Regions from separate parts of the Homo sapiens genome. Here regions 2 and 3 are each linked to region 1. Evidence: fine-mapped expression QTL. A gene starts in region 1. Each other region holds a variant in brackets. All regions are shown on one strand. Distances are from middle to middle. Region 1 holds the start of DENND10 (DENN domain containing 10). Region 2 overlaps LINC03036 (long intergenic non-protein coding RNA 3036). Region 3 holds the start of EIF3A (eukaryotic translation initiation factor 3 subunit A).

Region 1 (10,345 bases):
GGAGATAGAATCTCGCTCTGTCACCCAGGCTGGAGTGTAGTGGCACAATCTCGGCTTACTGCAACCTCCACTTCCCAGGTTCAAGCGATTCTACTGACTCAGCCTCTCAAGTAGCTGGGATTATAGGTGTACGCTGCCATGCCCGGCTAATTTTTTGTATTTTAGTAGAGACGGGGTTTCACCGTGTTGCCCAGGCTGGTCTTGAACTCCTGAGCTCAGGCAATCCACCCGCCTCAGCCTCCCAAAGTGCTGGGATTACAGGTGTGAGCCACCGTGCCTGGCCTAGGCCTATTATTATTATTATTTTTTTTGAGGTAGAGTTTCACTCTTGTTGCCGAGGCTGGAGTGCAATGGTGTGATCTCGGCTCATTGCAACTTCTGCCTCCTGGGTTCAAGGGATTCTCCTGTCTCAGCTTCCCAAGTCGCTGGGATTATAGGCACCTGCCACCACACCTAGCTAATTTTTGTATTTTTAGTAGAGATGGGGTTTTACCATGTTGGCCAGGCTGGTCTCGAACTCCTGACCTCAGGTGACCTGCCTGCCTTGGCCTCCCAAAGTGCTGGAATTACAGGCATGAGCCACCACCCCTAGCCTAAAAGTTTTATTTTTAAAAATCTGAGGGGAAAGGGATTTTAAGACATTTCACTGTAGGTAATAAATTCTGTCCTCTTTAATGTTTTTTGGAAAACGCAAAGAAAGATCAGAATTATTTTAATTACATTTTTCTTGCTGAACTATGTATTATTCTTTTTTTTAGAGACTGGTTTTTTTAGAGACTGGGTTTTGCTCTGTCACACAGGCTGGAGTGCAGTGGCTCAATTGTAGCTCATGGCAACCAGTGACTCTTGGACTCAAGTGATCCTCCCACCTCAGCCTCCTGAGTAGATAGGTTCAGGTGTGTATCTCCAAGCCCACCTAATTTTTAAATTTTTGTTCTAGAGACAGGGTCTTGCTATGTTGCCCAGGCTGCTCTTGAACTCCTGGGCTCGATGCTTTTGCCTCAGCTTCCCAAAATGCTGGGACTACAGGAATGAGCCTCGGTGCCCAGTCCATGAACTATTTCTTTTAATGCAACATAGTAGCCAGGTGTGATGGCTCACACCTGTAAGCCCAGCACTTTGGGAGGCTGAGGTGGGAGGATGTCTTAAGGCCAGGAGTTCAAAACCAGCCTGGGCAACATAGTGAGACTCCCATCTCTACAAAAATAAAATAAAAATAAAAATAAAAATTAGCCGGGCATCGTGGCTCATGCCTATAGTCCCAGCTACTCTGGAGGCTGATGCAGGAGGATTGCCTGAGCCTAGGAGTTCAAGGCCATACTGGGCAACATAAGGAGACCCCATCTCTACAAAAAGTTTTAAAAAATTGCTGGGCATGGTGGCACAAACCTATGGTCCCAGCTACTCGGGAGGCTGAGGTGGGAGAATTGCTTGAGCCTGGAAGGTCAAGTCTGCAGCAAGCTGTGATTGAACGACTGCACCCCAGCTTGGGTGACAGAGCAAGACCCTGTCTCAATAGATAAATGAATAAATAAATAGAAAGAAAGAAAGAAAAAAGAATAATGCAACACAGCTCGAAACCTGGGCTTCTTAGGGCCGGAGAGCTACCCAGCATCCTGAAACCATTGAGAACACAAGGAGGATGACTTCATCTTGGGAATGTTCTGGAAGCCTCACATATGCTAGAAGTCAGGACGGAGTGTCAGAGCAGTTGACTGAATCGCCTTCCAGTTCCCAAGTGAGACTGAATCCCTTAAATTAAAAGAGCTTGGCCAGGCGTGGTGGATCACACCTGTAATCCCAGCACTTTGGGAGGCCAAGGCGGATGGATCACTTGAGGCCAAGAGTTTCAGACTAGCCTGGCCAACATGGTGAAACCCCATCTCTACTAAAAATAAAAAAAAATTAACCAGGCTTGGTGGCACACACCTGTAGTCCCAGCTACTTGGGAGGCTGAGGCAGGAGAATTGCTTGAGCCTGGGAGGCGGAGGTTGCAGTTAGTGGAGATCACACCACTGCACTCCAGCCTGGGTGACAGAGCAAGACTCCGTCTCAGAAAAAAAAAAAGGCTGGGCACAGTAGCTCACACCTGTAATCCCAGCACTTTGGGAGGCTGAGGTGGGTGGATCACCTGAGGTCAGGAGTTCGAGACCAGTCTGACCAATATGGTGAAACCCTGTCTCTACTAAAAATACAAAAATTAGCCGGGTGTGGTGGCCTGCGCCTGTAGTCCCAGCTACTCAGGAGGCTGAGACAGGAGAATTGCTTGAACCCAGGAGGCGGAAGTTGCAGTGAGCTGAGATTGCATCACTGCATTGCGACAGAGCAAGACTCCATCAAAACAAACAAACAAACAAAACAACAACAACAAAAAAAAACTGCCACCCTAATGGCTCCCTTGGCTGACACATGCCCAATCTATGATGGAATCCAATTACAGAAACAAAGATGAAAAAGAACCATATTTGACTCATAGGAACCTGGGATTGGAACACCTGGAAGATGCTGGGGTCCCTTGTGCACTTGTCCATGTGGCCAGACAGTTTAGGCACTTTCCAAATCTGCTTCAGTGCCAGTAACTTACTCTTTTTCTGCAGAGCAAGGAGTGAGCAGGCTGTGCAAAAAAGAATTCACACGACAGGCCTGAGGGTGATATCCATAGAAAGTCTGCTGGCCAGTTTGGCCCTTGGCTGTGCCTGGAAACTTGGACTTCGGCAGTGTTCCCAGCATTTCTAGAACTGATCAAACTGATCAGAGTGACAGACTATGCCTGAACTATTTGTACATACAATGTGGTTCATGAGAGTCTGGAAATCTGGTATGAGCTAGGCAGAGGGTACCTATGTGACTGGCCCCCAGTAAAAACTGAGTTACTTGGTGACTGAGTTCTAACAAGCTTCCCTGGTTGATAAATATCACAAGTATTGCCACAACTTGTTGCTGGAGGAATTAGGTGTGTCCTGTGTGACTCTACCAGGAAATAACTCTTGGGAACTTGGCCCTGGTTTCCTCCAGACATCACCCCATGTGCCTTTTCCCTTTGCTGATTTTGCTTTGTATTCTCTGGCTGTAATAAATCATAGCCCTGAGCTGGGGATGGTGGTTCACATGTGTAACCCCAGCACTTTGGAGCCTGAGGTGGGCAGATCGCTTGAGGTCAGAAGCTTGAGATCAGCCTACACAATATGGTGAGATCACATCTCAAAAAAAAAAAAAAAAAAATAGCTAGGCATGGTGGTGCCTGCCTGTAGTCCCAGCTACTCAGGAGGATGAGGTGGGAGGATAGCTTGAGCCTGGATCAAAGCTGCAGTGAGCCGTGATCGTGCCACTGCACTCCAGCCTGGGTGACAGAGTGAGACCCTGTCTCAAAAAAATAAAAATGTATATCATAGCCATGAGTATAGCTATATGCTGAATCCTGAGAATCCTTCCAACAAATCATTGAATTTGGGGGGTGGTCTTGGGGACCCTTTATATTCTTACCTATAAAATTAGGCTATTCTTATCAATAAAACTAGCATAAAGATTTTCCCTGATTCAAATCTTTATTGGGAGAGTCACGGAGGAAAGTATGGTTAGCTCCATTTGATCACTGAGAAAACATGCACAGAAAAGATAGGAAACATGTGTGAGGTTTCGCAGCTAAGATGGGCAAGGGGGTTGGAACTCAGGTTGTCTGTTTCCACACCCCAGCTCCATCTGTCTGTGACAGCGCAGAGGTCAGTCTTACTTTTAAAGATTGGGGATGCGTCGCCTCTGCTCTCTCCACCCTCTATTCCTTTTCCCTTCACTCTGGTGTACCTGTCTGGCAGGTAAGACAGCACTTGTGGAGAAACAGGAGGGAAGGAGGTGTCAATTCCAGGTATCATCCCACTCACTGGAGCCTGGACACACCCCTCATTATCTTTCCCCTCCCTGCACCCACTATCATCTCCCTCTCCTTTGTTTAATTATCTGTTCATCATCGTCTTCATCCTCATTTCTTTTCTTTTTTTTTCTGAGATGGAGTCTCACTCTGTCGCCCAGGCTGGAATGCAGTGGCGCGATCTTGGCTCACTGCAACCGTCCTCTCTTGGGTTCAAGCCAGTCTGCCTCAGCTTCCTGAGTAGCTGGGATTACAGGCACCTGCCACCATGCCTAGCTAATTTTTGTGATTTTTTGTTTGTTTGTTTTTGAGATGGAGTCTCGCTCTGTCGCCCAGGCTGGAGTGCAGTGGCGTGATCTCGGCTCACTGCAAGCTCCGCCTCCCGGGTTCACGCCATTCTCCTGCCTCAGCCTCACAAGTAGCTGGGACTACAGGCACCTGCCACCACGCCCGGCTAATTTTTTGTATTTTTAGTAGAGACAGGGTTTCACCGTTTTAGCCGGGTTGGTCTCAATCTCCTGACCTCGTGATCCACCCACCTCAGCCTCCCAAAGTGCTAGGATTACAGGCGTGAGCCACCGTGCCCCACCTAGTGCAAGTTTCTAGTTGGCTTCCAAACTGATTCCACATCTGTGTCCCACTCCTCAGCCTCTAAACACCTGCTTCTTTTCTGTGAAAACTAGACACATTAACAGTTATACTACAACAGGAAGCCCAGAGAATAGAAGGGCACGTAGTTCAGGGTGCTGCCTTCCAGGGGTTCAGTTTAGTGAGAGAAACAGGAATGCCATATACACACCTAAATATACTCCAATGTATAAATTGCAGCCTGGGCAACATAGCGAGAAACTGTCTCCAAAAAAAAAAGAAAGAAAAAAGAAAAAAACAGGCGCAGTGGCTCACGCCTGTAATCCCAGCTACGCAGGAGGCTGAGGCAGGAGAATCCCTTAAAACCGAGAGGCGGAGGTTGCAGTGAGCCGAGATCGCGCTATTGCACTCCAGGCCGGGCAACTGAACAAGACTCCATCTCAAAAAAAAAAAAAAAAAAAGAAAAAAGAAAAAAAGATGAGGGTGGGATTGTATTCCTGCAGACACCAAGGACCCTCCCTAATTAGCTCTGTGTGACTTGGGGTTGGGGCAGACAGTAGATCCAGAGGAGGAATCTTGGAGCCAAATCTTCCAATGTCTGAGTCGTTACTATCATTCAGATCTCAGTTCAAATATCCCTTTCTCAGAGAAGCCTTTCTTGACACCCATTTTAGAGCAGCACACCTCCACTCTCTAACACACTGCCTCCAGGGCACATATCGTTGCCTCCAGGGCACATATCATTCTGAGCTTTTTTACTATTATCTATCTATCTGTCATCTATTTATCTATTTATTTATTTTTGAGACAGGGTCTCACTCTGTCACCCAGGCTGGAGTGAGTGGCAGGATCACAGCTCACTGCAGCCTCAAAATCCTGGGCTCAAATGATTTTCCTGCCTCAGCCTGAGAGTAGCTGGGACTACAGGTGCATGCCACTATGCCTGGCTAATTTTTAAATTTTTTTTGTAGAGATGGGTCTCACTATGTTGCCAAGGCTGATCTCGAACTCCTGACCTCAAGTGATGCTCCTGCCTTGGCCTCCCATCGTGTTGGGATCAGAGGCGTGAGCCACCTCACCTGGCCTGGATTATTTATTCTACTCGCCAATTGTCTGTCTTCCCCAGTGGACTGCTCTGTCTTGTTCAGCCCTATAAGGTATCCCCAGTGCCTTATTAGGCCCTCAATTTTTGTTTTGTTTTGTTTTGGGGGTGGCTGGATGAAGGAATGGATGGAGACCCTTCCTCCATCCTCAGGACGCCTCTTTTTAGGAACAAGGTGACCTGTTCTTTTGAGCTTGACCAGAGGGCAGAGGTAGAACAAGGAAAGCCTACGACGGGAAGAAAGATTGGAGTGGATTGAGAAGAAGAAGGATGAACAGCTGGATTAGAGAAATTGAGGCAGGCTGCGGAGACTCAAGGAGGTTTCCAAGGGCGAAGGGCCACGGGCAGAAGACGAGTGGAGCTGCACTGAGCAGGTCCTGGCAGGGAGGACTGGGGCTGGAATAGGTGGGCCTGCGGGTGGGGCGGGGCCGACGGGGGGGGTTGATGGTCCTGTGATGGGGCGGGGCGGGAGGGAGGCGGGTCCTACAGCGGGAGGCGGGGCCTGTGATGGTCCGGGGAGGGAGGCGGGGCTTATGATGGGCCGGGGAGGGAGGCGGGGCCTGTGATGGGGGCGGGCCCTACGGCGGGCGGGGCGGGGTTCGGGTGCGAGGCCGGTCCTGCAGGCGGCAGCCAGAGCTGCGCGCCGCGGCGGCGGAAGATGGCTGCGGCCGAGGTGGCGGACACTCAGCTGATGCTTGGAGTCGGGCTGATCGGTGAGGACGTAGGCGCCCTGCCTGGAAGCCCGCACCCTGGTTCTGCCTCTGCTCCACCTCGGCCCGGGGCAGCCCGGGCTCCCGCGGCCCCCGGCGCCGACCGCATGAGGAGGGCGCGGCCCCCTCCCTGTTGGGCCTGGACTGGGGACTGCGGAGCCCGGCCTCCTTGGTGCAGGGGACCCGGCCCGCCGCCCTCGCCCGCCCGCCCGCGGCCGCCTGTGGGGCCTGCCCGGCCCGAGGGAGCCCGGGGACCTCCAAGATTCCGGGGTGGAGCTCCCCCTGCACGCCCCGGGTTGCCCGGCGGAGCCGGGACGTCGAGCGCTCCCAGGCTGGGCAGCTGCGAGGGGCGCTGCGCGGGCGGGGCCGGGCCGGGCGGGAGCAGCCGGCTGGCGGCGCGGCGCGGCGCGGCGGGGAGGAGGCAGGGTCCGGTTCCCCCGAGCCGGGGGCGGGCGGCTGCCTCGGAGCCACGGGTGACTGCCCGCCCGGGCGGCCCCCATCGTGGGACCGGGCAGCTGGAGACTGCTGGGCCGGGTGCTGCGCGTTGTACACACATTGTCTCCTTTTAGCTCTCACCAAGGACCGAGGGGCCGTGGGAAACGTCTGACGCCCACTTCACGGAGGAGCAAATGGAGGCCCAGGCCGTCATTGTGCACGGACACACCATAGGCCGTACAGAGCCGGGAGTGGGACCCTCGCAGTGTATCCCAGAGCCCCCAACCCCCACCAGTGGAGAGCTCCTGCATCATGTGATCGAGCTTGTGCATAAATAAAGCAGGAGTTTCTACACAATCCTGTGTGGTGGAATCTCGGTTAGCTCTGAGGAATGTAATTATCTTCCATAATTAAAAAATATCACACGGGGATCTTTGGGCAGCCTCGTGCAGTATTTAGGGGATGGAACCCGTTGGTTCCCTTCGAAAAAGTTTTATTTTCCCGAGATTTTTGCACACCCCTAAACTCTTTCTATTCCCCAAGTGCGCAATAACATTGCTTAGGCTTTAGCAAAACTGAAGAAATATGCTGATTATTTTTCAGTGCCTCAAAGCAGTGCGTTTATGTGGGAATCGCTTACTGTTTTTATTTCTTTGTCTTTCTTCTTTTTTTTTTTTTTAGACGGGGTCTCCCTCTTATCCAGGCTGGAGTGCAGTAGCGCAATCATCGCTCTCTGCAGCCTCCACCTCCCAGGCCCAAACCATCCTCCCGCCTCGGCCTCCGAGTAGCTGGGACCTCAGGCGTGCACCACCACCCGATTAATTTTTGTATTTTTTGTGGAGATGGGATACCGACATGTTGTCCAGGTGGATTACTGTATTTATTTCTAATGTGATTTTCAAACTGCTTCAAAACAAAACCTAAGTAACTTAGTTTCTCCAGAAGGTACTTTTGAACTAAGGCTAAGTTAAACTGTCTTTATCTACTAATAGCAAATAAAAAGATGACATATGATCATATTTTGAACTCAGCAGTTTTTTAATTATTCACACTAACGTGCATTTAAAAGGGGTTTGCAGCCAGCCTGGGCAATGTGGTAAAACCCTCGTGTCTCTACAAAAAATACAAAAATTAGCCGGGTGTGGTGTGCCTGTAGGTGGGAGGATTGCTTGGTCCCAGGAGGCAGAGGTTGCAGTGAACTGAGATCATGCCACTGTACTCCAGCATGGGTGACAGAGTGAGACCCCCCCCAACCCCGTCTCAAAAAAAGAAATTGAAAAAAGAGGCCAGGCGTGGTGGCTCATGCCTGTAATCCTAGCACTTTGGGAGGCTGAGGCAGGTGGATCAATTGAGGCTGGGAGTTGATCAGCCTGGCCAATATAGCGAGACCCTGTCTTCACTAAAAAGGCAAAAAATTAACTGGGCGTGGTGGTGCACACCTGTAATCTCAGCTACTTAGGAGGCTGAGGCAGGAGAATCACTTGAACCCGGGAGGTGGAAGTTGCAGTGAGCTGAGATCAGAGGTGGAGGTTGCAGTGAGCTGAGATTGCGCCACCGCACTGCAGCCCAAGTGACAGAGTTAGACCCTGTCTCAGAGAGAGAAAAAAAAACAGAATGTGAGTGTCTTTTTTAGTATAATGATTTCTTTTCCTTTCGGCAGATACCCAGTAATGGGATTACTGGGTGGAATGGTAATTCTGTTTTCAATAACAATTTTTTATTTGTAGTCTTTAGAGACAGGGTCTCTCTCTGTTGACTAGGCTGGAATGCAGTGGTGCATAGCTCACGACAACCTCTGAATCTTGGGCTAACTTGATCCTCCCACCTTAGCTTCCTGAGTAGCTGGGACCATAGGCACACACCACCATGTCCAGCTAATTAAAATTTTTTTTTTGTAGAGATGCGGTCTCACTATGTGGCCCAGGTTGGTCTGGAACTTCTGGCCTCAGGCGATCCTCCTGGGTTCCCAAAGTGTTAGGATTATAGGCATGAGCCATTATGCTTGGCCTAAACAATTTTAAATACAAAATTCACACAGTTGGTATGCAACATGGTTTGAAATATTTCACTATTTTCTTCATCTCTGGTTTTGTTTTCGACAAACCTTTTCTATGTATTTATTAAAAATTATTCGGCTGGGCACGGTGGCTCACGCCTATAATCCCAGCACTTTGGGGGGCCGAGGCAGGCAGATCATCTGAGGTGGGGAGTTCGAGACCAGCCTGACCAATGTGGAGAAACCAAAACCCCATCTTTACTAAAAATACAAAATTAGCCAGGAGTGGTGGTGCATGCCTGTAACCCCAGCCACTCGGGAGGCTGAAGCAGGAGAATAGCTTGAATCTGGGAGATGGAGGTTGTGGTGAGCTGAGATCACTGCATTGCACTCCAGCCTGGGCAATAAGAGCAAAACTCCATTTAAAGAATTATTCCGCCCAGCACTTTGGGAGGCCGAGGCGGGCAGATCACCTGAGGTCAGGAGTTCAAGACCAGCCTGGCTAACATGGCGAAACCCTGTCTCTACTAAAACTACAAAAATTAGCTGGGCATGGTGGTGGGCACCTGTAATCCCAGCTACTTGGGAGGCCAAGGCAGAAGAATCGTTTGAACCTGGGAGCCAAGATAGCACCAGTACACTCTAGCCTGGGTGACGGTGAGACTCCGCCTCAAAAAAAAAAAAAAGAATTATTCCAACTAGTTAAAAACTTAATGTAATTTTAGTTGATAAGCATTTGTGTGGGAGGAGATAGGGAGAAACTCTAACATCTTTCTTTGTCTTTTTTTTTTTTTTTGAGACCAAGTTTTGCTCTGTTGCCCAGGCTAGAGTGCAGTGGCGTGATCTTGGCTGACTGCAACCTCTGCCTCCCGGGTTCAAGCAATTCTCTTGCCTTAGCCTCCTGAGTAGCTGGGATTACAGGCATGCCCCACCACACCCGGATAATTTTTGTATTATTAGTAGAGATGGGGTTTCTCCAGGTTGGTCAGGCTGGTCTCGAAGTCCCGACCTCAGGTAATCCACTCGCCTTGGCCTCCCAAAGTGATGGGATTACAAGCATGAGCCATCGTGCCCGGCCAAAACTCTACCATATCTCTAAGGCTGAATTTTCATTCATGGTTTGTTATAAAAACTTTTTACTCAGGTGGCCTGTAATTCAGGATCATGACAGCTAGATAATTTGAGCAGTAGAGATAGGTGGGAATTTGGGGTGTCAGGTATTGTGAGTTGCTTTGTAAGATGGGATGTTAAAACTGATTCCACTAAGTGTTTCTGAGTAACCAATCAATTCACTTCCTTGCTGCTGTTTGACATTCTCACAGTGACCATCTTTCCACCGTAGAAAAGGACACAAATGGAGAAGTTCTGTGGGTGTGGTGTTATCCTTCCACGACAGCCACATTAAGGAACCTGCTGCTGAGAAAATGCTGCCTTACAGATGAAAACAAACTTCTCCATCCCTTTGTCTTTGGTCAGTACAGAAGAACATGGTTTTATATCACAACAATTGAAGTTCCAGATTCTTCCATTTTGAAAAAGGTATGATTGCGTGAAGGTAAAAAAAAAACCCCAAAATAGGCTGGGCGCGGTGGCTCATGCCTGTAATCCCAGCACTTTGGGAGGCTGAGGTCGGCAGATCACAAGGTCAA
Region 2 (10,345 bases), 81 kb before region 1:
CGCTTAATGTTAATTATTTCTTCTGCCATACTACAGTAGCTAGGACCTGTGAGACCTCCAGGAACACGATGATTAGAGGTGTTAAATATATTTGCTACAAGGTTTGTAGATACGCTGTATCAATTAAAGAAACTCCCTTCTTTTTCTAGTTTTCCAAGAGTCTTAATCATAACTGTATGTTGAATTATATCAAATGTGTTTTCTGTATCTACCAAGGTAATCATATTTTTCTTTAATATATGAATGTGGTGAATTACATTGACTTTTTTTTTTTTTTTTTTTTCAAGACAGAGTCTCGCTCTGTCACCCAGGCTTGAGTGCAATGGCATGATCTCGGGTCACTGTAACCTCCCTCTCCCAGGTTCAAGTGATTCTTGTACCAAGCAGCGGAGACTATGGGACTACAGACCTGCACCACCACATCTGGCTAATTTTTGTATTTTTAGTAGAGACGGGGTTTCATTATGTTGCCCAGGATGGTCTTGAACTCCTGAGCTCAAGTGATCCACCCACCTCAGCCTCCCAAAGTGCTGGGATTGCAGGCATGAGCCACTGAGTTTGGCCTCACATTAATTGACTTCTAATGTTAAACCAAGATTCCATTCCAGAGGTAAATTCATCTTAGACCTGATTAATTAAATATTTTTCATTACTAATTTGGTTTAATATTGTGTTTCAGATTTTTACACATATGTTCATGAGTGAGTTTGGTTTGTAATTTTCTTTTCTTATACTTCTTGTGCTTTATACTAGCCTCATAAAATGAATTAGAAAATGATCTTTTTCCTATAAAAGTTTGGTGTAGAATTGGAATTATTTGGTTTTTTAGTAGCAGAATTTATCTTCAAAGTCATCTGGATCTAGTGTTTTCTTTGTGAGGAAATTTTTAACTCTGATTAAATTTATTAACTGGTTACAGGATTACTGAGGTTTTTAAATTACTGAGTTTTACTTTTCTAGCAGATTGCCCATTTCATATATATTTTTAACTTTTTTTTTCTTTTTTCTGAGACAGAGTCTCACTCTGTCACCCAAGCTGGAGTGCAGTGGTGCAATCTCAGCTCACTGCAACCTCCGCCTCCCAGGTTCAAATAAGTCTCCTATCTCAGCCTCCCGAGTAGCTGGGATTACAGGCGCCCACAACCACACCCGGCTAATTTCTGTATTTTTAGTAGAGATGGCACTTTGCCATGTTGGCCAGGCTGGTCTCGAACTCCTGGCCTCAAGTGATCCACCTGCCTCGGCCTCCCAAAGTGCTGGGATTACAGGCATGAGCCACTGCGCTCAGCCACATCTTAAAATTGAGGAAGTATCTATAGTCATGGAATTGTTTGTCATGCCTTTTATTCTTAATAAATCTTGCTAAATATTTGTTAATGTTATTAGTCTTTTATAAGAATCAACTTTTTTAGGCTGGGCACAGTGGTTCATGCCTGTAATCTCCGCACTTTGGGAGGCCGAGGCAGGTGGATGACTTGAGACCAGCCTGGGCAACATGGTGAGACCTTGCCTCTACAAAAAAAAAAAAAAAAGAAGAAGAAGAAGAAAAAAATCAACTTTTTGGCTTTGTCAATCATTTATCATATCTTTTCTTTTCTATTTCACTAATTCCTTCACTTCTCTGTATTGTATCCTTTTCTAGTTTCTTCCATTGTTGATTTCTAATGAAATGGACTTGTGACCAGAGAATCCTATGTGACACCAATCCTGTGAAATTTGTTAATACCTGGTTGATGGCACAGAATCCCATCAACTTTCTTTTTTAAGAGATGGGGGTCTCACTAGGTTGCACAAGCTGGTCTCAGACTCCTGGGATCTGGTGATCCTCCCACATAGCTAGTATTTCAGGCATGCACCACCACACCTGGCCCCAGTCAACTTTTATGAATGCTCTGAGTGCTTGAAAAGAATGTAAATTCTGCAGTTATTCAAGGCAGTGTTTGTATATTTATATGTATATATAATTATATACATATCATTATTCAATATTACTAAATATATTCTATATCCTTAATAATATTGTCTATTTTACCTACGAGAGAGTTGTCACATCTCCCACTAATGTAGATTTGTCTATTTCTCCTATTTCTCCTTGCAATTCTATCAGTTTTTTTATTTATACTTTGAAGTTAAATTATTAAGTATATATTACCTTGGAACTGTTATAGCCTCCTGGTAAACTGAACCTTTCACATTACATAGCCATAGGTCCATTTTGTTGGCTGTTGGCACAGCAACATCAGCTGTTCCTTGGTGGTGTCTCCTCCCATGACTTCTTGCATCCTTTCACCTTTCACCTTTCTGTATCCTTATGTTTCATTAGAGTTTCTTATGGAGGACATATAGCAGATTTTTAAATCCAGTCTGAAATCTTTGTGTTTTAATAAAAACATTTAGTCCATTTACATTTATTACAGTAATTATATGTTTGGACGTACTTCAACCATCTTATTGTGTACTTCCAATTTGTTCTACCATTTATGTGATTATTTTTCCCTCTGTCATGCTTTCTTTTGTAATTATTATCCTTTCCTCATTCCATTTCTTTACATCTATTATTTTGAAAGCTATAATCCCAGCACTTTGGGATGCCAAGGAGGGTGGATCACTTGAGCCCCCGAGTTGAAGACCAGCCTGGGTAACATGGTGAAACCCTGTCTCTACAGAACACACAAAAATTAGCCGGGCATGGTGTTGTGCACCTCTAGTCCCAGCTACTTGGGAAGCTGAGGTGGGAGAATCACCTGAGCTGGGAAGGTTGAGATTGCAGTGAGTTGTGATCATGCCACTGCACTCCAGCCTGGGTGACAGAGCAAGACCCTGTCTAAAAAAAAAAAGAAAAGAAAGAAAGTTATACCCTCTATTTCCTTTCTCTTTTTTTCCAAATTGGTTCCCTAAAAATGTTAACTTACATGCTTAACCTCTCAAAATCTAAATTTAATTAATATTGATAGTCAAGATTTTCTCCAAAATAATCCATAGTATAGGAGATAGGGAAAAAAAAAAACAGGTGTGGAGATAGTTAAAAATAAGAGTAGCCAGTTATTAAGGGTAAACTGGGTTAAGATTCATTATGCTGGCCGGGTGTGGTGGCTCACGCCTGTAATCCCAGTACTTTGGGAGGCCAAGGTGGGCAGATCACAAGGTCAGGAGATCGAGACCATCCTGGCTAACACGGTGAAACCCCGTCTCTACTAAAAATACAAAAAATTAGCCGGGCGCGGTGGCAGGCGCCTGTAGTCCCAGCTACTCGGCAGGCTGAGGCAGGAGAATGGCGTGAACCCGGGAGGCGGAGCTTGCAGTGAGCCGAGATTGCGCCACTGCACTCCAGCCTGGGCGACAAAGCAAGACTCTGTCTCCAAAAAAAAAAAAAAAAAAAAAAGATGCATTATGCTATGATCTTTACTTCTGTAATTCTTGAAATTTCCCATAGGTTATAAAATATTAAAGTTAGTATCTTTCCCCTCTCCTTGAACAATATAAGGGTTTTGGAGCACTTCACTCCAGTCTCTCACTCCTGATGCTTGTTCTATTATTGCTGGGTATTTTTGTTGCACTTGGCTCTTTTTTTGTTTTAATGACAAATTAAATAACATCATTATTATTAGTTTGGTGCAAAAGTAATTGTGGTTTTTGCCATTAAAGAGTTAAAACCGCAATTACTTTTGCACCAACCTAATATTTTAAGTATGTTGAGTCTCCCACACAAGTATGCCTTTCTTTGCTCACTAATCCTCTTTGCAACTCAGACCCTTCCTCTGCAATCACTTTCCATCTGCCTGAGGGACACACACACACACACACACACACACTTTGTGTAGTGCTCCCTCACCTCACAGCTTCCCCTGTACTGTGTCAGGTCCCAACTGACAGAGGAAACCTGACCTCCCCAGCCCAGCTGCACTCTGGCTATGCCAAGGTCTTGGGAGTCATGACACACCCGTGTGTGGGTGGGGTGCTGTTGCCAGGGAGTTCACAGCCCTCTGCACTTTCCCCGTGGTAAGCTGAATAATGACCCCAAAAGGCATATTAATTCCTACAACCTGTGGATCTGTTACCTGACATGGCCAAGGAGAACTGAGGTTCCAGGTGGAATTAAGGTTGCTAATTAAATGATGTTAGAATAGGGGCCTGGCGCAGTGGCTCACACATGTAATCCCAGCACTTTGGGAGGCCGAGGCAGGTGGATCACTTGAGGCCAGGAGTTTGAGACCAGCCTGGCCAACATGGCAAAACCCTGTCTCTACTAAAAATACAAAAATTAGCTGGGCATGGTGGCACGCACCTGTAATTCCAGCTACTCGGAAGGCTGAGGCAAGAGAATCGCTTGAATATGGGAGGCAGAGGTTGCAGTGAGCCGACATTGCACCACTGCACTCCAGCCTGGGTGATGGAGCGAGACTCTGTCTCAAAAACAAACAAAAAAAGATGTTAGAATTGGGAGATCATTCTGCACATTCTGCATTATCCCAGTGAACCCAGTGGGACCACCAGGGTCCTGGAAGGTGGAGGAGGGAGACAGAAGAAAGAACAAAGAGGTGCCACGTGGAAAGGACTCAGCTACCTGCTATCCCTGGGTTTTGAGAAGGGAAAGGCCACGAACCACAGGAATGGCAGGCAGCCTCCAGACGCTGGGAAAGGTAAGGAAACAGGTTCCCCGCCAAGAGCCTCCAGAGGGAATTCAGCCCAGTGAGACCCACTGTGGACTTCTGACATCTAGAGCGCTGAGAAAATCAGTGTGTTGTTTTCAGCCACTATATGGGTGGTAATTTGTTACAACCGCAACAGGAAGCGAACCTGCCCCCACCAAGTGTCATCGCCTGTTTACTTGTCTGTCTGCCCAATTCGAGTGTAAGCTCCATGAGGTCAGAAGTACGTCAGTCTTATTTGCCACTTATCCCCAGACCTTGATGGTAAATAAATGAATTTTAGAGATGGAAAGGGCCAAGAAATCACTTAGGCCAGCCCAATTATTTTAAACTGAAATTTAAAACTAAGATCCAGAGACAGGAACTGATTTTGCTCGAGGCTACTCAATTTATACAGAGCTTGGATCCTCCATCCGCTCCCTGGGGCCCACCTGCCTTCTGGTCACTAAGCCGTAGAAGCCTGAAGACAGACACAACTGTGGAGAGGCAGCT[C/G]CGAGCACACAAAATCCCTGGAGAACTCAGGACGGCTGGGAGAGGATCAGTGCAAATCAGATAAGACCAGAAGAAGATGGCTAAAATGACTTGAGCAATCTTTAAAATGTTAGTCCCGGCCCAGCGAGGTGGCTCACGCCTGTAATCCCAGCACTTTGGGAGGGTGAGGCGGGCGGACTGCTTGAGCCCAGGAGTTCTAGACCAACCTGAGCAACATGGCAAAACCCCATCTCTACTAAAAATATGAAAATTAGCCAGGCGTGGTGGTGCATGCCTGTAGTCCCAGCTACTCAGGAGGCTGAGACAGAAGAATCGCTTGAACCCAGGAGGCAGAGGTTGCAGTGAGCCAAGCTCGTGCCACTGCATTCCAGCCTGGGCGACAGAGCAAGACTGTCTCAAAAATAAAGTTAAATGTTAGTCCCAAGGGGCAGCTGATCCACCAGTAACAACCAGGGCAGAACTGTGCCCAGCACCTGATCAGCTGAATTCAGGAGACTCTCCACCTGAAGCTTCAGAATGGGGAAACAAGAAAAGGGGTACTAATGTCAAACTTGAGGCCCGCCTTCAAGAAGCTCAGCATTTCACACCTCGGCCAGAGCCAAAGCTTTGGGCTTTGAGCAAATTAGGAAAAGACACTTCTTCCACAAGGTATCTTTTTCCATCTGTCAGTGAAGTGTCATAATATACTGATTTCGTTAGAAGATACTTTACTCAAGGTCGGCCAGAAAATGATCACAGAGTTACTATGTCTATGAAGTAAAGGTGCCCCCTTAGATGGGAAGCGGTTGTGCAGTACACAACCTGCAGAACTGTACACAACCTGCAGAACCACACATAGCATTCTTTGCTTGGCAGTCTGGTCCCATCCTTTCCACAGCCCTCATATCCCCGCTTCCCCTCCCTCTGCCTAGAGCCCTCAGACCTGTTGGAGAACAGTCTCAATCTACAGGTTACCATTTTACATGTAACTCCTTCCTGTCAGCTTTTTACTTCCCTCCCCCTGCAGACAGCAGGGATTGACGACGGGTGAGAGAAGGCTGATGGCCCCATTTAGGGAAGCACAGGAGGAGGTGGGGAGGCCGGATGTAGTGAATTCCAAATGAATGAGTATCCACGGGCCAGGGGATGATCAAGGAGGTGTGAGGGTTAACAGTGCGGGCCTTGAAGAAATGCCACCTACCAGCTAGCTGTGAGCTGCTGGGCATGCTTTTAGCCTCCCAAAACCTCATTTTCCCTTTTGTGAAATGCTTATCATTGTAGGCCTGCTGGGAGGATTTCAGAAATGATATGAGTGAATGCTTAGTGCACGGTAAGGGCTCAGCACCTGTGAGCTACTGTTATTGCTATTATCAGCATCATCAGCCCAGGGACATCTGCCCTTCCGCCTGTCAGCCTCCAGGCAGCTCCTGCTTTAAACAAAATTGGGACACTCCAGATTTCTAAAAGAAAACCACATGGCAGGGAGGAGGGCAAGTGCTGGAGGGAGAAAGGATTACTCACTTTACCAAAGTACCCACTACTGGATAAACAGAAACACCCAGACTGCTTTTAAATGGGGTTGGTTTTGTTCAGGGGACATTGCTGACACGGACTGGAATGTGTCCTCTCCTGCCCCTGCCGCTGTGTGTTGCTGGCCAGTCTCCCGCACATCTGGACCCCAGAAGTCCCAAGAATGACCGGGTGCATCCAAGGAGGCACAAACCCAGGTTCGGGGAGTGAGAGAAAAATGGGTGCAAATCTCAGTCCTGCTGCTCCTGAGCTTCTCAGCCTTGGGCTCCATGCTGAGCTTTGCCCCCGTCTCCAACAGGTCACCAGCGCACCTGCCTTGCGGGGCAGGGTTGGGGGTGGGGGGCACATGGAATAGTGCATGTCAAGCACCTGGTGCTGATGGTGGTGGTATTATTACCAGCTGGGAGACTTTAGCCCAAGGCAGGGGGTGTGAGATGACACCACGGCACCCGTTTCCCATTCTCCGCATCCCCTTCCAGCCTTGTCCACACACAGAGAATTCTGACATGGTCGTCACCTCCACCTGGCCAGAATATGGTAGCCTACCTTTTCGACAGAATAACCAAATGTATTTTTTTTCACAGTATTACATGTTTCATTTAGAACAAGGGTGTCCAATGTTTTGGCTTCCCTGGACCGCAATGGAAGAACTGTCTTGGACCACACATAAAACACACTAATGACAGCTGAAGGGCTTAATTAAAAAAGGTCTGTGCATAATCTCATAATGTTTTAAGAAAGTTTACAAATTTGTATTGGGCCGCATTCAAAGCTGTCCTGGGCCACATGAGGCCACCTGGCCACAGGTTGGACAAGCTTGATTAAGAATGAAGTCAACTGCACGTATAAAAGGATACCTGGACGTGGTGTGGTGGCTCACGTCTGTAATCCCAGCACTTTGGGAGGCCAAGGCAGGTGGATCACCTGAGGTCAGGAGTTCAAGACCAGCCTGGCTAACATGGTGAAACCCTGTCTCTACTAAAAATACAAAAATTAGCTGGGCATCGTGGTGCATGCCTGTAATCCCAGCCACTCGGGAGGCTGGGGCACCAGAATCGCTTGAACCTGGGAGGTGGAGGTTGCAGTGAGCCGAGATCATGCCACTGCACTCCAGCCTGGGTGACAGAGTGAGACACTGTTTCAAATAAATAAATAAATAAAAGGATACCTGACTTGAAGTGGCTGAAATAATAGAGATGTTATAATTATCTCGTGTAACAAGTCACCAAGTCATCAACAAAAATATCACTAAGGTTTGTTTTTTGTTTTAACTTTTCTGGTAAGCCATCACCTTGCGCCAGCTTTGTGTCCTTAAGCCTTATCACCTCAGCTCTATAGCCTGAGCTGAAGAAGGTGAGGGCCCTGGTTCTTTATTTCTTCCCCCTTTTTATATAAGGAAGCAAACCCCTTCCCAGTATCCTCCCAGCAGACAGCAGATGTCCGCTGAGATCTCCAGGGTGAGAATGGGTCACCAGCCCTCCCCTTACCCAGTGGTGACTAGGGGAAATGGGATGTTTCTGCTTAAACCTGTCACAGTTATGCCCCGAGGCTGAGGGAAGGAATCAGAACAAAGTTAAGTCTGCAAGGAGGGGGAGTGGCTGCCATTTTACTCGACAAGAGCCCTTCACTGACCAAAAGCAGCATCTGGGGCCCAGAGAGGTTAAGCCCCTTGTCCACTACACGTGACTTTGCACCAGCGCCAGGGTGCAAACCCTGTCCCGAGGCCCAGTAAGCTCTCCCCACTTCACCATATGGCTTCTCCACAACAGCAGACCCTAAGCCCAAGCCCCCCAAAGGGCAGGAGCCCCATCCCAGGACTCTCTGAGCTTGACAGAGCCATGATGTGGACAAAGTCAGCCAGGAGAGGGCTCCTCGTGCCCAAATGCACCTCACCCACCTCCAGGCCCATGGCTGACGGAGCCAAAGCACCTCCTGTCCCTGGCAAAGTCCTGGCAGGGGGTCAGCGGGAACCCAGAACCTGACAAACAGCATCGCTATAGCCGCCTGGACCCCGGCCAAGCTGCCTCATTCCCCAGGGCTGACCTCATGTTTCTGAAGAGCCTCAGGAGCCTGAGGTCTGTGAGCTGCCTCACAGGGTTCAGTTCTGCTGCCAGCAAAGGAAATGGCCCGGGCTGGGGGCCATGTGGAGAGGTGGGAGCACAGAACCCAGGCACCCTCCCCACCACCCACCCCTGCCCTGCCAGAGCCCTCAGCCTGTGCCAGGCAGGCCCCACTGCCCCACTCCAGAAGAAACCAAGCAGCACCCTCTAACTTCTGAGGTGTAGCCCATGCCCACCTGTCTTCTCACCTCTGCCGGATACCTGAAGAAACGTTCACAGACTGGCTGTTTCCATCTGTTTCATTCCAGACTCCTGGAAAGTGAGCAAAAGGCAGTGAGACTTCATCAGAGGTGCTAAGAACATCTCTGAAATCGTGCCAACACCTCAAAGAGCTAGAGAGCTCACAGCCAGGCTGAGGCCTGTTGCTGGGTGACAAAAGTCACTGTTTATTTAACCCAGAGCTGGGCCAGGTGCCCACACTGGCCTTTCTATGGTCACTGAGAGCAAAGGCTCCCAGGGTACTGAGGCCCAGCGTGTGCTCCACGACAAAAGCCTTCATGCACTTGGCCTCCACTTCCCGACTTCCCTTCTGGGTCAAATGTCTACTCACCTCGTATAGCAGTCAAGGGGAGCAGCCTGGGGAAACAGCCCATGGCGGACCCCAAGACACACTCATTTCTCCACCTCCTTCTGGGGCATCTCCATCCCAGCTCCACTTCCCACATACCCAGGCTGCAGGTCCCAGCCAAGGTGTTTGTTCCTATTCTTATCCCTTAAAAGTTTTTATTCTCCCCGTACAACCACAAGGGCCGAAAACCATGTTGGGAGGCAAGAAGGCTTCCGCTTCTGTGCCATCGCCTCTCTGGCCTGACCAAGGGGGATCAGACACAGCAGCTGGCAATTTTAAACTTTTCCTGCCAAAGTTATTCTCAGAACTGTGGCTCCCCATCTTCAGAGCTTGAAAAGTCTGCATGTCTTGAAAGGATGCAGGCTGCAGGGCTGTGTGAACCGAGCGGAATTTTCCATTCATAGAATAATCATCTTCATACCACTCTGGGGGGCTGGCGTTCTCGTGGTAAAAGCTCCGAGTTCAGGGTCAGCAAACCTGCCAGGCGTCTGCAGGAGCCCTGCGGCATGGAGGTTCTTTTATTTATTTTTGGTGGAGAAGGGGAGGAAATAAAGGAATGACTTTCTACCTTGCATGCCAACACAAACTTGGAAAAGGATCTGGGTTGGCAAGTGCTGAATATTACTGCCTGGTTTCATGACTTACATCAACCATCGGGGGCTAGAAGGAAGAGGCCGAAACATGGATCTTTAACCCCTAACCCAGAGAGGCGGCCAGAACAGGCCTCACTTCACTGCTTCAGGTCCTTTCCCGCGCCTGCCAGCCAGAGCCCTGGATTGCTCTTTGAGGGCAGGGGCCCCAGCCAAGGCCATATCGCCTCACCTCACCTCACTTCTTTCCAGCTTCCCCTGTGTTGTGCCTTAGAGTTCTGCGGATGCATGCACAGACTTATTGTCTGAGATACCTTGCTGGTCCAGGGTGTAGTGAGAAGGCCACCCGGCCGGGAGTAACAGGACCAGAGTCTTAGTTCTGTCACATAGTCACTGTAGCCTTAAAGAAGTCCTGCT
Region 3 (10,345 bases), 25 kb before region 1:
TTTTTTTCTGATAAACATCTACTTCAAAAGGAAATGAAGACCCATGTAAAAGAAAACACCAAGTTAACTATCAAAGCATTTATTAGAGGTCTAACCCACATACCTCTCAGGAGTTTGAATATTATCTAGATCCTCTATATCTAAGACCATCTGCTGAGATTCTTCTTTAGCAGCTTCAGTTTTTTCCTCTGCCATTTTCAAATATGCCCTAACAACATCCTCCAGAGATTTTATGTTCACCTAATCCAAAAAAACAAAAACTCTTCAGAACTTATTTTTCCATTGAACCATAAGATGTTTTAAAGGCAAATTTTTAAGAGAAATACAATATATTCACTTCGAAAGGTAAGTTCTTCGGCAGATTACTAAAAACACTTGTTAAAAATATACAACCCAGTTCCGTTTGTACCTGTTGACAAATGTTCTTATACTGGTATAACCCCTCCTTTGCCAAGTGGCTCTTGCGAAGATCCACGCAAAGTTCCAAGTATTTCAACATAATTGGTTCGTGTATCTTTTGCCATGTTCTATGTTTTTTACTTTTCATAACATCATAAAGAACATCCAGAGCAGGCTGCTTTTTGCCAACCTCAAGAAATTCTGAAAAATTCAGAAGAATTAAAATTAGTTATGTACACTATACAAGAGTCTAAACTTTACCTTTTTAAACAGCTATTTCAATTCCCCAACTCATTACCAACTTTTTACCAAGTTACATTTATTTTTGACTTCTAAAGCTATGCCATAATTATCAAAAGTAAAACAACAGAAAGACCTGTACTGTGTTGAAATATGATCTACAAGTAAAACTGAATCACTGTATTCCACTGTGATTTAAAAGTTCCAGGCCGGGCGCAGTGGCTCATGCCTGTAATCCTAGCAATTTGAGAGGCCGAGGTGGGCCAATCACTTGAGGTCTAGAGCTGGAGACCAGCCTGGCCAATACGGTGAAACCCATCCCTACCAAAAATACAAAAATTAGCCAGGCGTGGTGGTATGTGCCTGTAGTGCCAGCTACTGAGGAGGCTGAGGCAGGAGAATCACTTGAACCCAGGAGGCGGAGGTTGCAGTGAGCCGAGATCGCACCATTGCACTCCAGCCTGGGTGACAAGAGCGAAATTCCGTGTCTCAAAAAAAAAAAATAAAATAAATAATGTGTCGGTATTGGTTCATTAGTTGTTACCAATAAAAATCAACATGGGAGAAAGTGGGTGTGGTGTCAATGAAACTATGCACTCTCTTTGCAACACTCTGGAAATCTCAAACTGCTCTAAAAAATTCTTTTTTTTTTTAAATAAAAAAATAGAAAAATGGGGCCGGGAGCGGTGGCTTATGCCTGTAATCCCAACACTTTGGGAGGACGAGGAGGGCAGATCACTTGAGGTTGGGAGTTCAAGACCAGCCTAACCAAAATGGAGAAACCAAGTCTCTACTAAAAATACAAAATTAGCAGGGCGTAGTGGTGCATGCCTGCGGAGGCTGAGGCAGGGGAATTACATGAACCTGGGAGGCAGAGGTTGCGGTCAGCTGAGATGGCGCCACTGCACTCCGGCCCGGGCAACAAGAACGAAACTCCAACTCAAAAAAAAAAAAAAAAAAAAAAAGGGAAAAAAATGGAATACAAAGCAAAATAACTTATTTTTTTTCTTTTTTTTTTTTTTTGACATGGAATCTCGCTGTGTCGCCCAGGCTGGAGTACACTGGCGTCATCTCAGCTCACCGCAACCGATTCTCCTGCCTCAGCCTCCTGAGTAGCTGGGATTACAGGCACCCACCACAGGGCCCGGCTAATTTTTGTATGTTTAGTACAGACAGGGTATCACCATCTTGGCCAGGCTGGTCTCGAACTCCTGACCTCATGATCCACCCGCCTTGGCCTCCCAAAGTGCTGGGATTACAGGCATGGGTCACCATGCCCAGACAACTTATATTCTTTTGAATTTATTATCCCCTGAGCCCGAAGGCATTCTATGTGGTAACATTTCAAAACCCAGTTCCAATTTTAAGTTTTATGCATATTGTTTGTTTTGAAATACAGTCAAAAGCAATACCTTTGCCATTACATTATTTCTGACCAAGGTTAAAATTTATCTTAAATTTCCTCATCTTTTATTTTCTTTTGTACACTTAATAGACTGGGGGAGAAAGAGGTTATTTAACCTAAGTCAACTGGTTAAATTCATCTTAACATTCATTAATTGCAAATTTCACACACACACAAACTTCCCAATGAACATTTAAAAAATAATTTGGGGGAACTAAAACACTACACTAAAAAAAAAAAGGGGGGGAGCTTAAAACACTATATATATACATATATATATATATATCTCCTTTTTAAAAATATCATTGTTTATTTTCCTTGGAAAAAGACTTTTTTTTTTTTTTTTTTTTTGGACAGAGTCTTGCTCTGTCACTCAGGCTGGAGTGCAGTGGTGCAATCTCAGCTCACTGCAAGCTCCGCCTCCCGGGTTCACGTCATTCTCCTGCCTCAGCCTCCTGAGTCGCTGGGACTACGGAGCTCGCCACCACGCCTGGCTAATTTTTTTTTTTTTTTTTTTTGTATTTTTAGTAGAGGCGGGGTTTCACCGTGTTAGCCAGGATGGTCTCAATCTCCTGACCTCGTGATCTGCCCACCTCGGCCTCCCAAAGTGCTGGGGATACAGGCGTGAGCCACCGCACCCAGCCAATACTTTTTCTTTTAAGAGCTATCTGATAATGGCCGGGCGCAGTAGCTCACGCCATAATCACAGCACTTTGGGAGGCGGGTGGATCACGAGGTCAGGAGATCGAGACCATCCTGGCTAACACGGTGAAACCTCGTCTCTACTAAAAATACAAAAAATTAGCTGGGCCATGGTGATGCACGCCCGTAATCCTAGCTACTTGGGAGGCTGAGGCAAGACAATTACTTGAATTCAGGAGGCGGAGGTTGCGGTGAGCCGAGATAGCGCCACTGTACTCCAGCCTGGGCAACAAGTCTCCAAAAAAAAAAAAAAAAAGTTTGCTACAGGATAAATCACAAAACATACTGAAATAAATCTTTGTACAATACCTTATATGAAATCACATTTTTCACATGCAAATAATGACAAAACCCTTCACCACTGCATGAAAAAGTCCATCTTTCGCTGACTCCATCTTACTATCAAAAAAAAAACTTACTAAATGAAACAAAGATGTAATATATAACTAGATATTTTGTTGAAATAAGCCTTTCCTTGTTGTCAGGGGTGGGGGTGGGAGGGAAAAAACTTGCAGTCTTCTCCTGGTCTTCTCCTATATAGTGCATGTAAGGTTATTTTCTAAAATGTAACAGTACAGCCAGGCGCCTTGGCTCACACCTATAATCCTAGCCCTCTGGGAGGCCAAGGCATCACTTGCGGTCAGGAGTTCCAGATCAGCCTGGGCAACATGGTGAAACCTTGTCTCCACTAAAAACACAAAAATTAGCCAGGCATGGTGGTGCATGCCTGTAATCCCAAATACTCGGGAGGCTGAGACTTTAGAATCACTTGAACCCAGGAGGCGGAGGTTGCAGTGAGCCAAGATTGCGTCACTGCACTCCAGCCTGGGCAATAGAGGGAGAGACTCTGTCTCAAAAAAAAAAAAAAAAGAAAATGTAACAGTACATTAGGCGTTCTTCATAACTAACAAAAACAGTCTCTTATCAGCAAAAAACTTGGGAGTAAATGCGTTTAATGGAATTTATACTTTAAGAAAATCACAGCAGCAGCACTAAAATGACCTATTGTATCCAACTCCTAATCTAAAAAGGGCTTGCTTAAAGATGGAACTGAAACCATTTTTCACTTCCTGAACAGCCAATTAGAAGTTGATTCCTTAGCCAGGCGCGGTGGCTCACGCCTGTAATCCCAGCACTTTGGGAGGCTAAGGCGAGCAGATCACTTGAGGCCAAGGGTTCAAGATCAGCCTGGGAAATATGGTGAAAAAAATTAAAAAATTAGCTGGGCATGGTGGGACACACCTGTAATCCCAGCTACTTGGGAGGCTGAGGCAGGAGAATCGCTTGAGCCTGGGAGGCGGAGGTTGCAGTGGGCCGAGATAGTGCCACTGCACTCCAGCCTGGCCAACAGAGAGAGATTCTGTCTCAAATAAATAAATAAATAGTTGGAATGGGAACAGATTTTTCATAATCCATGACAGTGAGTCTTCTGCCTTTGTCCTAATTTATATACAAGAATTTAGTTCCTCCGAATTTTTTTTTTTTTTTGGAGAAGGAGTCTCGCTCTGTCACCCACGCTGGAGTGCAGTGGCGCAATCTCAGCTCACTGCAA[G/T]CTCCACCTCCTGGGTTCATGCCATTCTCCTGCCTCAGCTTCCTGAGTAGCTGGGACTACAGGTGCCCGCCACCACACCAGGCTAATATTTTTGTATTTTTACTAGAGACGGTTTCACTGTGTTAGTGAGGATGGTCTTGATCTCCTGACCTTGTGATCCACCCGCTTCGGCCTCCCAAAGTGCTGGGATTACAGGCATGAGCCACCACGCCCGGCCTCCTCTGAATTATTTAATAGTGGCCGGGGGAAGCTTTTGAGACTGGAAAGAACTATGATAAACTAAAGGTTCTATTTCAATACTTAAATATTGACTTCCAGATTAATATTATAGAAATAAAAATTAAAATCTAGAATTATAAACCTTACTGGATGGGTGAGCATTTGGAGCATACCTTTCAAATTCATTACTGAAAGTATGTATAAAGAAGTTTACATCAGCCCTTGATGTTTGCTAGTTTATTTGTGCAACAGACCAAATGGATATGCTATGTTACTCAATTTGTGGCCTTAATAGCTTTATTTTTCAAAGGCACTGGTTGTAGAACATAAACTATAATAAGGTCAGCAGCAGTTAGTGTGGCACCACTAATGATATAATATGAAAAAGGGGCCTTCTCCAAATGATTACAGGATACGAAATTCTTGCCTGTAACTGCTGGTCCAAGTTCTCACCTTCCTGAATGACTACTATAATTTTTCCCCCAAAAATTGCTCATATATATGCTTAGGGTGACCTGAACGACTATTCTACTTAAATTTATTTACATTTTATTAAGACAATGCAATAAATTAGGTCTAAATATTGTTAGGATCACAAATATTACATGTAAAACATTTAGATAAAATGAGATTATTTCCAATTAGGGGAATGCCCTTTGATCCTTCACTTATGTTTTGGAAGCAGTGCCCTGGACCATCCACGATCTGCTCACTTTGAGAAGGGATCCCTCACAATCCAAAGGTATGAGTTTCTACTCTGAAGGGAACGCATGCATCCCCATCCAACAGCTTCAAAGGGCTGCAAGGGACCACAGTCTTTTTTAAAAAGCTACACAAACAAAACTCAAGTTTCCCCCCCAGTGTCCCTCATCTTGCCTACTTTAATTTCAGATCCTTTCCTTAACCTGCCCTTCATGAATCAAGCCTGTGTCAATTTAGAAACAGGAAAAAAATGTTTGATGCACATTACATATCTTTTCTATATGAAGTTCTTATGAAGGTTCCAAAAAGAGAAGCGATAAAGGAAACAAGACCCGAACACACCAAATATATAATATGTAGGCCATTATAATGCTTTGGCCTACTAGCACGGGGAAAAAAAAATACCTGTTGGGCAAAGCATGCAAATGACTGTAAAACATCGACAACAGCCATGCAGAGTAGTAATTTCATGCAAATCATTTTGTATACTACAAATTCTAACTTTCGAAACGACGAAAAGTCATAAACTTTGCTACAGTTTGGTTTATAGTGACAAAGTTCCATTTCAATCTCTTCTTTCCGATGTATTAATAAACATCCTAAAACTGCTTGTCTGTTCTAACCATTAGATCACTGGTTATCATTAGAATGAATTAGTGCTCACATCTATGTTGTAGTTTCAATAGGTTTTTAAAACAATTACTCCATTCCACACAATGTGGAATTATCCTATTCCACAGACCAGTTCCCTCCCCGACAAAAAGTGTTACTTTTACTTTAAAAAGTATATGACCAACATATCTCTGGTTCTGCCAAATTATCAGTTTATGTGCTGACTCAAACTGCCATTTTCATAAGATGAATTTTCAAAGAAGCTAACAAAATAAGCTCTCCAAACATAAAACTGTAACTCACAAGGTATATTCATCTACAACATGGGTAAAACCCGAAACTTCTATTTCGGTGAAGGAAGGATGAAAATAAGAGCTATCCATGCCCTAACGATTAGAAAAATTGTCCGGTTAGAGGGGAAAAAAAAAACCCTACACAAAGTTTCTTAAGCCCAGAGCCTAGCCAAGAACATGTGCATCCCCAGAACGCCAATGTAATAAATGCCTTGGAGAGATCGGGGCACACAAGTTTTTCCCTCAAGCGCCAATGGCTGAAGTACACATATAGAAATAGAAATCGCAGACAGCAGCACTGTGGCAGAAAAAAAGAGAAAAAAGGACTGATCTGGATGTCAAGAGACGTTGGTTTTAAGTCTCTTGGCTCAACAACTCCCGGAGTGACCTTGGGGAAACCTCTCTCTAGGCCTGTTTCGTTATCTTTAAGAGGCGACCTGAAGTCCCTTTACATTAACTCTATTCCAACTTCCAGTGATTCGAAACAGGCTTTAGGACTGCTTCTAATCAATGCCAGGAAAAATGAAAAAACAAAAACAAAACAAAACAACAGGAATCAGGTTAAATGGGTCAGAGGCCCCTAAGTGGATATAAAGCAGCTGGGTAAAGGGTAAGTGGACGCCGACCCAGCAAAGCACTGAGCGCGGCTTGGAGAGCGGGGGTGGCTGCGGGAAGGCCGGGGGTGGGTCCGTAGGGCTCCCGGCCCGGGCAGGAGGTGGAGCCGAGGCTCTCGCGTGCATTGTCCCCGGGAGGGAGCCATGTTTCTTACTCCCCGGCACTCCCAGATGGCGGCCGGGGACGCGGGCCCTAAGCAGACCAAAGCCCCAGGGACCTGGAGAGCCAGAGGACGCAGGCAGCAAGGAGGGAGCTCCAGTCCGGGTAGGGGCTGTCTCCCGGGCTGCGGTCCCCGCGACGCACCCGGAGGCGGCAGGGGGAAGGAAAGGCCCCTGGGGCGACGGTTCCGGGCTACGCGCCTCCCAGACCCCAGTCGATAGAGTGAGAAGGAAACCCATGCCCAACCACCGGCTGGGACAGCGGCGGGCAGGCCGCATCGGTCTCCTCTCCCCGCGCGGGCCGGGCGGCGGAGCAGTGGGAAGCAGGCCCGCGCTCTCGACCTCGGAGGCCTCGGGCCGCCCCAGCCCGGCGCGCCCCGATCAGCTACTCACCGTTGGCGCGTTTGAGGGCATTTTCCGGCCTCTGAAAATAGGCCGGCATCTTGGCGGCAGGCTCAGCTCACCCGGCGTCAGCGAACTCTCTAGTGGCCCGGGCCGGGAGAGGAGACGAAGGGGAACCAGCGTAAGGTCCCACGCGCCTCGCCAGCAGTCGCCCGCGCCCAGCCGGCCAGAGACGGAAAGGAAGGAGCCACGTGACCTCCCCGCGGCGGCCCTGCTGCCGCCCAGGCCCCGGATGTAGGGGGCGGGTCTCCGTGCGCGCAAGCGCGCTGGCGTCACGCACGCCGACAGACGTGGCGGCGCCGGAGTCCTAGGCGCGCAAGGTCCAGTTCCCGTCTTGGGCCTGTCCTGGATAGCGTTAGGGAGACAGTTCACAGGCTCTTCAATCTTCGAGCGAGAATTAGGGTGGGAAGGGTGAGTGTGGGGTCAGAGTTTCTGTCTGGAGAACAAGCAAACGTCTGCAGATTGGTTTTCAAAGCGACTTGTGCGGAGTCGTGCAGTTACAGTAAGGTCCCATCCAGCCTGGGAATCGCCTGTCTTGGCTACGTGAAAATGCTGAGTTTAACGAAAACGCAGTGAGCAGGTGTCATCAGGTCAGCGCCGCTCAACCGTGAGAGACAATCATGGGGAAGAGTGACGCCTAAAATAAACAAGCAAGGTTCTTTTATATCTTGGTAAAGTAAAAAGTTTGTGTCACAGGGATTGCCTTGAGAAATGGAGGCTCTCAGAGGGGGCGAATGGGGACAGCGACCTGGCAAAGGGCGAAACGCCCTGGAGCACAGCAGACTTGCTTGGTGTTTGAAAACACACGGAAAGGAGTGTCGTCACTTTTTACATACAGCGCACGTCACAAACAAATTAAGAAAAATTAGTGTTAGTGAAAAAAATCAATCTGAGAGGCCCTTTTATTGTTGCTTAACAATTTTAATGTTCGCAGACGAAGTACTTTACCTAGAATTTGAAAACCATTTGAACCGAATCTAATTCTCAAGCCCTTGGTACGAAATAAAGGTGAGCTCAGAAGGAAAAAAATTTTTTTTTTTTTTGAAACGGAGTCTCGCTTTGTCGCCCAGGCTGGAGTGCAGTGGCACGATCTCGGCTCACTGCAAGCTCCGCCTTCTGGATTCACGCCATTCTCCTGCCTCAGCCTCCCGAGTAGCTGGGACTACAGGCGCCCGCCACTGCGCCCAGCTAATGTTTTGTATTTTTAGTAGAGACGGGGTTTCGCCGTGGTCTCGATCTCCTGACCTCGTGATCCGCCCTCCTCGGCCTCCCAAAGTGCTGGGATTACAGGCGTGAGCCACCGCGCCCAGCCCAGAAGGAAAATTTAGAAGGCAGCAGTGAAATAGATTATTGTCAATGTATTACACATTTAATAGACGAGATATGTGAATTAATGAATGAGGAAATCGGCCGGGCATGGTGGGTCGCGCCTGTAATCCCAGCACTTTGGGTGGCTGGGGCGGGTGGATCACCTGAGGTCAGGAGTTCGAGACCAGCTTGGCCAACATGGCGAAACCCCGTCTCTACTAAAAATACAAAACTTAGGCCTGGCGTGGTGGCTCACGCCTGTAATCCAGGCGCTTTGGGAGGCCGAGGCGGGCGGATCACGAGGTCAGGAGTTCGAGACCAGCCTGACCAAAGTGGTGAAACCCCCCCCCCCGTCTCTACTAAAGTTACAAAAAATTAGCTGGACGTGGTGGCGAACGCCTGTAATCCCAGCTACTCGGGAGGCTGAGACAGGAGAATCGCTTGAACCCGGGAGGCAGAGGTTGCAGTGAGCCTAGATCGTGCCACTGCGCTCCAGCCTGGGTGACAGGGCGAGACTCCGTCTCAAAAAAAAAAAAAATTAGCCGGGCGCTGTGGTGGGCGCCTGTAATCCCAGCTACTCGGGAGGCTGAGACAGGAGAATCGCTTGAACCCGGGAGGCAAAAGTTGCAGTGAGCCAAGATCAGGCCACTGCACTCCAGCCTGGGCGACAGAGGGAGACTCCGTCTCAAAAAAAGAAAAAAAAAAAAAAAGAATGAGAAAACCACAGGATATACACACAAAAAGCATTTCCCCCTCATTACTTCTGCCTCCACAAAGATGGTTTTGTTTTGTTTTTTTATTTTTCAACATGAACTGTTCTACTACAGGAGAGGTTTTTCTATTTATCTAAATTGATCACTATAAAGAAAGAAGATTTGGGAAGTATAGACATGGACCCAAAAAATCACAAATTCTAAAGAAGTTTATTTTAAAATTAATTTCAGAGAGCTCATCCTCCAGAACGCTTAGACCATTCTATGTGTCTGAGCTTACTCAACAAAAAAATAAGAGCTGGGCAGGGTTGATATAAAAACAAGTACTGAGAAGCTATAGGAACTGTTTTATGGGCAGGATCAAGAGACTTGTTTGTGTATCTAATAATTAAGTCAAAATTAAAGAGTGAAACATATGAGCACATACTTCTTTTACGAGATGTAGACAGAGAACTATTTAGAGATGCAAACAAAATAAAGTTGACCTAAAAAATCAGAAAAAAAGCTTGCTGACATTCATAACTTTACGTTATCATTTCTCAAAGAAAATAGTAAAATGGGCCGGCATGATGGCTCACGCCTGTAATCCAACACTTTGGGAAGCCGAGGCGGGCGAATCACAAAGTCAGGAGTTCGAGACCAGCTTGGCCAACATGGTGAAACTAAAAATACAAAAATTAGCTGGGCATGGTGGCACGTGCCCATAATCCCAGCTCCTTGGGAGGCCAAGGCAGGAGAATCACTTGAACCCTGGAGGTGGAGGTTGCATGAGCCAAGATTGTGCCACTGCACTCCAGCCTGGGCAACAGAGCGAGACTCCATCTCAAAAAAAAAAAAATAGTAAAATGGCCTCATTCGTTATTACTCATTATTTGGTATGCCTACAACAACACAAACACTAGAAACTTGGGAGATAGGTGGGGCGCAGTGGCTCACGCCTGTAACCCCAGCACTTTGGGAGGCCAAGGCAGGCGGATCACAAGGTCAGGAGTTTGAGACCAGCCTGGCCAATATGGTGAAACCCT

The links. PIP is the estimated chance that this variant, and not a neighbour inherited with it, causes the effect.
Region 2: its variant is fine-mapped to the expression of DENND10 in whole blood (TOPMed, PIP above 0.99).
Region 3: its variant is fine-mapped to the expression of DENND10 in whole blood (INTERVAL, PIP above 0.99).

What each region holds. Positions count from the first base shown.
Region 1 is chr10:119,097,930-119,108,274 of GRCh38, forward strand. DENND10 (DENN domain containing 10) reads left to right here and starts at 6,184. Exons shown (of 9, transcript NM_207009.4): 1 at 6,184-6,268; 2 at 10,039-10,235. The coding sequence starts at 6,214. RefSeq lists a silencer at 5,973-6,752 and an enhancer at 7,894-8,393.
Region 2 is chr10:119,016,839-119,027,183 of GRCh38, forward strand. It overlaps LINC03036 (long intergenic non-protein coding RNA 3036), which reads right to left. Exons shown (of 4, transcript NR_186540.1): 2 at 8,959-9,022. Among named protein-coding and RNA genes, the nearest start is that of LINC03036, 7.6 kb to the right of the region's middle. RefSeq lists enhancers at 5,469-6,111, 6,112-6,754, 7,940-8,513. The variant C/G (reference allele first, on the strand shown) is at 5,142.
Region 3 is chr10:119,073,338-119,083,682 of GRCh38, forward strand. It overlaps EIF3A (eukaryotic translation initiation factor 3 subunit A), which reads right to left and starts at 7,480. Exons shown (of 22, transcript NM_003750.4): 1 at 7,291-7,480; 2 at 410-600; 3 at 104-240. The coding sequence starts at 7,339. RefSeq lists a silencer at 6,945-7,204 and enhancers at 7,210-7,972, 7,400-7,694. The variant G/T (reference allele first, on the strand shown) is at 4,299.